Linked DNA regions of Homo sapiens: region 2 is linked to region 1. The links come from fine-mapping of genetic effects on gene expression. A gene starts in region 1. The other region holds a variant in brackets. All regions are shown on one strand. Distances are from middle to middle.

Evidence for each region. PIP is the estimated chance that this variant, and not a neighbour inherited with it, causes the effect.
Region 2: its variant is the best candidate, but not a certain one, in a credible set for the expression of LYSMD2 in whole blood (TOPMed, PIP 0.54).

Annotation. Positions count from the first base shown.
Region 1 is chr15:51,735,603-51,739,995 of GRCh38, forward strand. It overlaps LYSMD2 (LysM domain containing 2), which reads right to left and starts at 2,053. Exons shown (of 3, transcript NM_153374.3): 1 at 1,748-2,053. The coding sequence starts at 2,020. RefSeq lists silencers at 1,502-1,711, 1,782-1,921, 1,932-2,371.
Region 2 is chr15:51,371,189-51,375,581 of GRCh38, forward strand. All of the region lies in intron 1 of GLDN (gliomedin), which reads left to right. Among named protein-coding and RNA genes, the nearest start is that of GLDN, 32 kb to the left of the region's middle. The variant C/T (reference allele first, on the strand shown) is at 2,432.

The sequences.
Region 1 (4,393 bases):
CAAAAGTCTTTATAAAAGCAACGAAAAATCTGATCTACACTTTAATTTTAAAAAGGGGTAATGAGGTTATGAGTAATAGGATCTATATTAGACATAACAGGGATTAGAAAGCATTTGATCAAAGGTGGAAAACTGCAGTAAACAGATGTATAAGAGTTATCTATAATCAACTCAAGTGAAACCACAGACGGCTGTGGGTCACAGAGAGATTGCACGGGAAGACAGCATGGGAAATAACACTCTTCTGCATGTCATAGATTTTTAGGTGCTGTCACTAGCCTAGTAAGGCAAGATGCCTGAAAACCAGATAGAAAAGACTGTCCTCCTTCAGTAGCCAGGATGCTGAGAGAGCTCCTGATAAGACTAAGATAAAAATAAGGATGGATATCAAAAGTAATATCTAGAGGAAAGCAAATGCTTTATCACTGTTAATTCAAGCTGGTCTCAATGAATGATCATACTTGGAAAATATCCTTACCTCTCATCCATCTTCTCATCTGTAAAAAGATTAATTACACCTACCTCCTGGGCTTATTGTGAAAGTTAAATAAGATAAAGATGAAACAAGACAAACGCAATGCCTGCCACACAGGAGGCATTCAGCAGAGGGTAGCTACTGGTATTTCCCAACTTCGCTTTCCTCTGCCTCTGACTCAAACCAGGCCCCATTAAGGCACATAGAGAATTGTAGCTCTATGTTCACATGTATAGAACTCCCAAGAGGGCAGAATGGGGCTCTCCATGGCATGATAGAGTCAATACATGACTGCACAGCAAGGTCCCTTTCAAAATATTTCAAAGATAGAAGGACCTGATAGGTAAACATATACCGGCTTAAATATGCAAAATACATTCTCCTTCATACTGATGCTCCTTCATTCGGTAAAGGGCCAGAAAGAGTTTCACTTTAAGGGAAAGATATAGATAAGATCCTCTTTCTTCCCATTGCTGTCTAAGGTGCTTCAGGAAAGAACACTGAAAACTGATACAGATCCCAAATGTAAAAAGGCCATCACATAGCTCACAGTTAATTATAAGTAATTTTAATGAAACAATTTGTTCCCTCAGGTTTCCATGTTCTTCCCAGAGGTGTAATGCTATACACCCAAGACACACACACTTATAAATTTGTAATAAACGCAGCCCTCCAGCTCACCACAGTTCTTGGCTGCTGCTTAGCGACAGGTGTCACATTCGCGGTTGCCAGTGAGCCCAGAGGGTGTAATTTCACTTCTACATAAAGAAGCATAATCGATAGAACCAGAACCACCCAGTAGGAACAACTGCACCATTCCTGACTCATCACGGAGCTTGTTTTCACAGACAACAAAATTCACCTCAGTTGGGCTTTGCGTAAATATAGAGTAGTGTGATGGGGCCTGCAAATTGGGTGAAGGTGGTTCACGGGGATGCCAAAGCCCTAGTCCTCTTCGGCCTCCCTCACGCGACAGATCTAGTCTGAGCCTGGGCGGGGCACCGGGAACTCGATGCAGCTACCTAGGGAGGGAGCCCTGGCGGTCCGCCCCTCCCGCTGCAGGACCAGCTTTGGCGACCACTGCGGTGGCCAGCAGCGCGCGCTGAGCGAGCCCTGGGAGCCGAGCCGCCCGGGGACGCACGGCCGTCCCTGCGACTCCCCATCCCCCAAACCCCCACCCGCAGTCCCACCCCCACCCCCACCGCACCCCGAGCCGCACCGCCTCCTGCGCGGTAGCTGCCAGCCCGGGCCGCGGCGGCGCGCCCTGCTCACCGTGACACCGTACTTGAGCGCGATGCCCTGCAGCGTGTCGCCCGCGCGGACCCGGTGCTCCACATGGCGCTCGATGACGCCGGCGCCCAGCGGCGCCCGCACGCTGGCGGTGCTGCCGTACGAGCGGGTCTTGGTGCGGGCCAGGCTCAGCGACAGCTCGGCCTCCTCGGACTCGGAGCCGGAGCGCGAGCGCGGCGGCGGCGAGGGGGCCGAGGGCCGCGGCGCGCGGGGGCCGCCTTCCCGCAGGGACAGTGCGGGCGAGGAATCCGCCATGGGTCCTGCCGAGGCCGCCGGGTCGGGGAGCTTGCCAAGGGGGCGGCGCCTCCTCCTCCTCCGCCGCCGCCGCCGCCTCTTCCTCTTCACAGGGGCTGCAGCAGGCCGTTCCGCGGGGGCGGCGGACGGGAAGCCGAGGCGGGGAGCCGCAGGCCGGGCATGGCGGGCGCCTCCTCCTCTGCGTCCTGCCTGCCCCGGGCGCCCGCGGCACACGCACCTGCAAGGTTAAGAGCGAAAGCAGCTCCCGCCGCGGCCTGCCGGTACCGGGAAGACCCTGCAGAGCGAGGGAGCCGGGGAGCGCTGAAGCCCGCGGCCGTTGGGGCTAAGAGAGGGCTATCTGCAGGCGTCCTAGGCCCCAGGTGGACCCCTGCTCCATTGGCGATAGAGCCCTGGCAGAACCCTGCCCTGGCCACGGCGAAAAAAAAAAAAAGCGTTGCTCTGCCTCCTTTATTGATTCCCCAGCAGGAGCCAGCTTGCACAGACCTTCCAGCTCTGCCAATGCCAAGGGTACTTCCCTCCCCCCACCCCAGTGACCTCAAAGTCCACGTCACAGTAAAACTTAAGATCATCAAACACACACAGACAGCTTCTCCAGGTCCATCTCAACAGCCTCAGAGTCCAGTCCTTTCAACATTGCACTAGGAGGGATAGTGCTTCTAAGGCCTAATGGGTGGCCTCAAAATAACCCCCCTAGTTGTTCGGGTTTCACACTTTGTACACTAGTGCCAATTTAAGTCCTGGCTGCCTCGAAAGGCTGGCCACATACAATTCATTCTCCAGGCTCAGTAGTTGGAATTTACTGTCTGCATTCATCTTCTCTTCGTCAGTTTATTCTTTGACACCCTGAAATCGCATCTCCCTGCCCCGTATTGCTATTAATATTATAACCACCAAAGACCTCTTATCTGTACTCTTCATTTGAACACCGTCTACTCTTGAACACCCTTTCAACACACTGTATTATACACAGAGTGGGTACACATTTACTAGCATCTAGTGCCTGGTTTCTGTGTTATTTTGGACAGCTTTCCAAGAAGAGGTACCTTGTAGGAAGGTCCGGAGCCTGGGGGTTTGATTCGTTGGCTGAAGTTTTGGTATGTTGCTGTGCTGGACAGAGGCAAAGCTAATATTGCTCAGGAGAGAAAGGATGGGAGAGGAGCAAGCTTCCACAACACCATCCCACTCAAAACTCCTACAATGGCTCTCTGGGGACAACAGCATTACTAAAAACCTACATTGGCATTCAAGCTATTATTTCTATTTTTATTATTCATGGTCTGACCATACCCCATCTATAACTCATTCTGTATACTCTACATATTCCTGCCAAACAGAGCCTCTGAAACTGGCCTCCTTGTTCCTACTTTCATACCTTGCATGTTATTCCCTCCAATGGTAACACTCTTCCAGTACCCTCTATTACATTGTTTAAATCTTTAAGGTCTGTCTCAAATGATACATCCTCCATGAGATTTTTCCTAATTCTTCCCAATGGTCCCTTTTTCCCACCTGCCCAACTGTTACTGTTTCTTCTTTGAACTCCAAGAGGTTTGTATTAATACCTCTGGTTTAGTATTTAACTCTCTGTGTTTTGTGTTTGTACTTGCATGTACATGCATGAGCTTGTCTTATCTCCTCCAACAAATACGTGCTCCTGGGAGGCATAACTGGGTCTTACTCATCTTTTTAGCTCCAGCAGTGCCTAGCTCAGTGGAATAAAAAAAAAAATAAATACATAATTACAAGTGGTTGAATTGAGGTGTAGTAAAAAGATCCTGAATGCTAATTTAGATTGTTTAGCATAAGTCTGCCATGCATAAACTTTTGGGTGGTATCCAGTGTGTCCATTTCAGGACCCAAGAGAGAGGCAGAATTTGAGTCTCAGTATATAGACAAGATCTGGTAATGTTTCAAGAAAGAAGTCTCTTCCTTCAAAGAGTTTACAATCTAGGAATGAGACAGCATATAATGTTTTCCACTAAGAAAAAGTTTACTGCATGGCTGGAAGTTTTAATCTGAAGATTAAAGAACTGAGCCAGGCGCAGTGGCCCATTCCAGCACTTTGGGAGTCTAAGGAAGGAGGATAGCTTGAGCCCAGGAGTTCAAGACCAGCCTGGGCAACATAGTGAGACCCATCTCTACAAAAAATACAAAACTTAATCGAGCATGTGGCCTACTCCTGTAGTTCCAGCTACTTGGGAAAGTGAGGTGGGAGGATTGCTTAAGCCCAGTAGGTGATCTCTGCAGTAAGCAGAGATCATGCCACTGCACTCCAGCCTCAGCAACACAGTGAGACCCTGGGGTTTTTTGTTTTGGTTTGGCTTTGGGGTTTTCTTTGTTTGTTTGTTTGTTTTGAGATAGAGTCTTGCTCTG
Region 2 (4,393 bases), 360 kb before region 1:
GTCACTTAACACCATGCCAAGGCTGTCTTTCCAATAGTACATATAGATCTATGTCATCCTTTAAAATTTGTTCAACAAGACCCTTATTGACAAACCTTTGCATGTTCTGCCACACAGTGTTGCATTGAGCATTTTTGTCCAGATATCCTTGTATACTCTTCCAAGTGGGATTCCTAATTTGTAGCATTTTCTTTTTAACAGATACTGCCAAGTTATGTCCCATCTCTGTTTAGTTTGAATTAAAACAAGCTCAAGCCATCTGATGCCAGGTCAGCAAGAAGTCTGTTCTTTTTCTCCTGGGGCCTCTTCCTTGGCCAAGATCCCCAAGAGTTCTGCTAATCCAATGAGAATAGTTCCCTTTTCAGAGAAAAAAACTGGAAAAGCTGGTCAGGCTGCCAGTAGGGCCCATTTGGGCTATCTTTTCCCCTAACGCTATTGTATTAGTCCACTTTCTGTTTATTATAACAGAATACCTGAAACTGGATAATTTATAAGAAAAGAATTTTTTTTTCAAGATGGAGTCTCACTCTGTCACCCAGGCTGGAGTGCAGTGGCTCGATCTCAGCTCACTGCAACCTCTGCCTCATGGGTTCAAGCGAGTCTCCTGCCTCAGCCTCCCAAGTAGCTGGGATTACAGAAGCATGGCACAATACCCAGCTAATTTTTTTCTATTTTTAGTAGAGACAAGGTTTCCCCATATTGGCCAGGCTGGTCTTGAACTCCTGACCTCAGGTGATCCACCCACCCTGGCCTCCCAAAGTGTTGGGACTATAGGCATGAGCCGCCGCGCCTGGCCAGGAATTTATCTTTTACAGTGATAGAGACTGAGAAGTCTAGGGTTGATGGGCTGCATCTCGTGACAGCCTTCTTGTTGGTGAGGATTCTCTGAAGAGTCCCAAGTGAGACAGAGCATCACATAGCAAGGGATTGAAGTGTGCTCACTCAGGACTCTCTTCCTCTTCACATGAAGCCACCAGTTCCACTACCATGATAACCCATTAATCCATGAATGGATTAATCCATTCTTGAGGGCAGAGCCCTCATGATCCAATAACCTCTTAAAAGGCCCCCTTTCTCAATACTGCCACATTCAGGATCAAGTTTCAACATGAGTTTTGGAAGGGACACTCAAACCATAGCAGCTACCAAACGTTCAATGCTGAAAACAAGTCGCCATGCAATGTAATATGTCCCTGTCCGTTGCTGCATTGATCTTCCCACCTGGGAGATGAACCTGATGGGCCCCATTGTTTCTTCTGGGAGATAATTCTCACTCCTCAGTGATGCTTACAGCCAACAGGGCATTCATCCTGAGCTCTCGGGGCTACTGCTTATTATTTTGCACTCAGGTTGACAGCCCATCGTTCCCACTAAGTCTGTCCTCCATGCTAGCGTGGCTGGGTTGGACTTTTTCCTGTGCTTCACCCACCCTCTCCCCAGCACCACCAGATTCTCATATCATGAACTGATTAGCAATTTATTGTCATCTTCTCTCAGAGAAACTCTTCCTTAGAGACGGTTGATGTGCTTTCCCACTTGAACCACTTCTCAGCAGAGAAGTTCCAGGCCTGGGACCGGGCACTATTCTAGACACAGGGTACCTTAGTCTCTTTTGTGCTGCTATAATGGAAAACCACAGATAGGGTAATTTATAATGAGCAGAAATTTATTTCTCATAATTCTGGAGGCTGGGAAGTCCAAGATTGAGGTACCAGAATCTAGTGAGGGCCTTCTTCCTGCATCATTCCACAGCAGAAGACAAAAGGGCAAGAGAGTGAACTCAAGCCCCCTTATAATCAGCATTAATTCATTCATGAGGGTGGAGTTCTGCAGACCTAAATGTCCTCCTTTAGGCCCCACCTCCCAACACTGTTATGTTGGGGATTATGTTTCCAACACATGCATTTGGGAGGACATATTCAAATCATAGTACAGGAGATGCAGACAAAACAAAGAAGTTTTTCTGCTCTCAAAATGCTTCCTTTCTCTGGGGAGCAGGAGTAGGTAATAAATATGTAAGCAAGATAATACAGTCATTCCTCAGTATCTGTGGGGGATTGGGTCCAGGACACCTGTGAATACCAAAATCCGCACACACTCAAGTTCCTGACGCTGGTCTTGTGGAACCCAAGTATATGAAAAGTCAGCCACCCATTTCTGAGAGTTTCGCATCCCTCAAATACTGTATTTTCAATCCATGTTTGGTTGCGGATGCAGAACCTGTGTATATGGATAACTGACTATATTTACTGATAAAAGTTCGTGTACAAGTGGACCCACACAGTGCAAACCTGTATCATTCAAGGTCAACTGTACTGAATAATGATAAGTGCTACAAAGACAAAAGGCCAGATGAGGTGATGGGGAGTGGCTGTCTGGGCTCCCTTCAGTTGAGAGACAGGAAAGCCTGACTTGAGGCATCAGTGAAGCT[C/T]ACCATGTAAAGATGTGTGGCACAGCACGCTAGGCAAGGCCAAGACCAGCGACGAGGCCAGTGCGACTGGAGCAGAGTGACAGTGATGGGCAGGGAGGGGGAGAGCACTGGGAGATGCCCTACAAGGTGCGGGGGCAGGGCCACAACATGGATGGGTCATGCCTAGTACCCCCAGGACAATGACCTCTAAGGACTCTTCCAGCTTCAACCTTCTCAAGACCTCCCTCAAGACTTAAGAGGCCCTTAATGCAAAATATGACTCCTTAATTTGACCATCTAGATTTTGTGACTTTCAATTGGGAGTTTTCTTATTTTGATTCCAATTTTTAATCATTATGACCAGAAAAAAGTTTCTAACTTTATGGCCACACCTTTTCATATCATATATTTCATCTCAATACAATCTTATATACACAGCCCAATTTCGTTAAAAGACTATTCTTGAGTAAAGATTAACATAATTTACTGGTAAATATCTCAATTGACATTTAGCATACAAATGAAATCAAAAGGTCAGGAAATGAAAACTGCTTCATAGTTTTTACAGAAGCTGCACCTGCCCCAGATCAGTGATTAGTACCAAACAGAAAGGCTAATTTTCCCTATTGTTGCTTCTGTTGTTTCCAACCACCCCTTCTGCTGTGATCCCCCAGGCAACAAATGAAGCCATTGTGAAGTCTTTTCTGGTCCTCTCAATGGGCAATTACACATTTTTTAAGACAATAAATTTTGTTCCTAGTGCAGCTGATTACATTCATTTATGAAAATGACTAAAGGCAGTGAATCAATTTTTTTTCTGTCTGGTGATGTTAAGATAATCACCAGAGCCATAATAGAAAGTAGAGTGGACCTGGAATCAGGAAACCTGGAGTTCAGTCCCATTTCTTCTACCAGCAAGCTGTGTGATTTTGAGTAAATGATGGCATCTCTCTAAGCCTCTATTTTCTTATCTGAATTAAATGGATAAGTGTACTCCAACTCAGAGAGCTATTGGGGGTGAGGGGACATCCAGAAGTCTTCCAAGGCATTGGTAAACTTCCATTTCATTTCATATATATGTGTTTGTCATATTATTCATCGTTAAATTATCTGTACACATTTCTTTTCTTTCTTTTCCTTTTTTTTTTTTTTTTTTTGAGACAGGGTGTTGCTCTGTCACCCAGGCTGGAGTGCAGTGGTGGGATCACTGTTCACTGCAGCCTCAGCCTCCAGGGTTCAAACAATCCTCCCACCTCAGCCTCCTAAGTAGCTGGGATTATATATGCATGCCACTATATCCAGCTAATTTTTAATTTTTTCATGGAGAAAGGGTCTTACTATGTTACCCAGGCTGGTTGGGCTGAAATCAATCTTCCCACCTTGGCCTACCAAAGCACTGGGATTACAGACATGATCCACCACACCAGGCCCACATTTTCTACATGTGTGATATGTATGAATATTTCACAATAAGTTTCTAAAGCAGGCAATAAATAGCTGTTGACATACTTGACAAAAAGTAAATACAATATAAGTTTTCCTCTGGATCTCCTAACAGAATAAATCTAGATACAATACAAAAATTATTTTCCCCTCACATCAAAACATGGCATTTTGAAAAATAGTTTAATGGAAAGAGTAATCAGTGAAATTTTTGAAAAAGACAATGATTGTATCATGTTTAGTACAGCTCCCTTCCACCCTGGCCCTCCATTTTCCCCTCACTTGAGGTTTTCTAAATCTACACAAATATTCTGGAAAGATAAAGAGATTATCTTAAAAGCAGCAAGAGACAAACACATAGAAGCATTTCTGTGTGCAGCACTGTTTTACATGAACAAAAGTATGTTATATGTGCTGCTCTATATTTGCATTTTTTCATTTATCTTAGAGATCTTTCAGTAGCAGCCTATGAATTTAGCACAGTCAGATTTGTTTTTTCTGAAGCTCGCTGGAGCAGTGTGGAGAATGGGAAGGGGTATA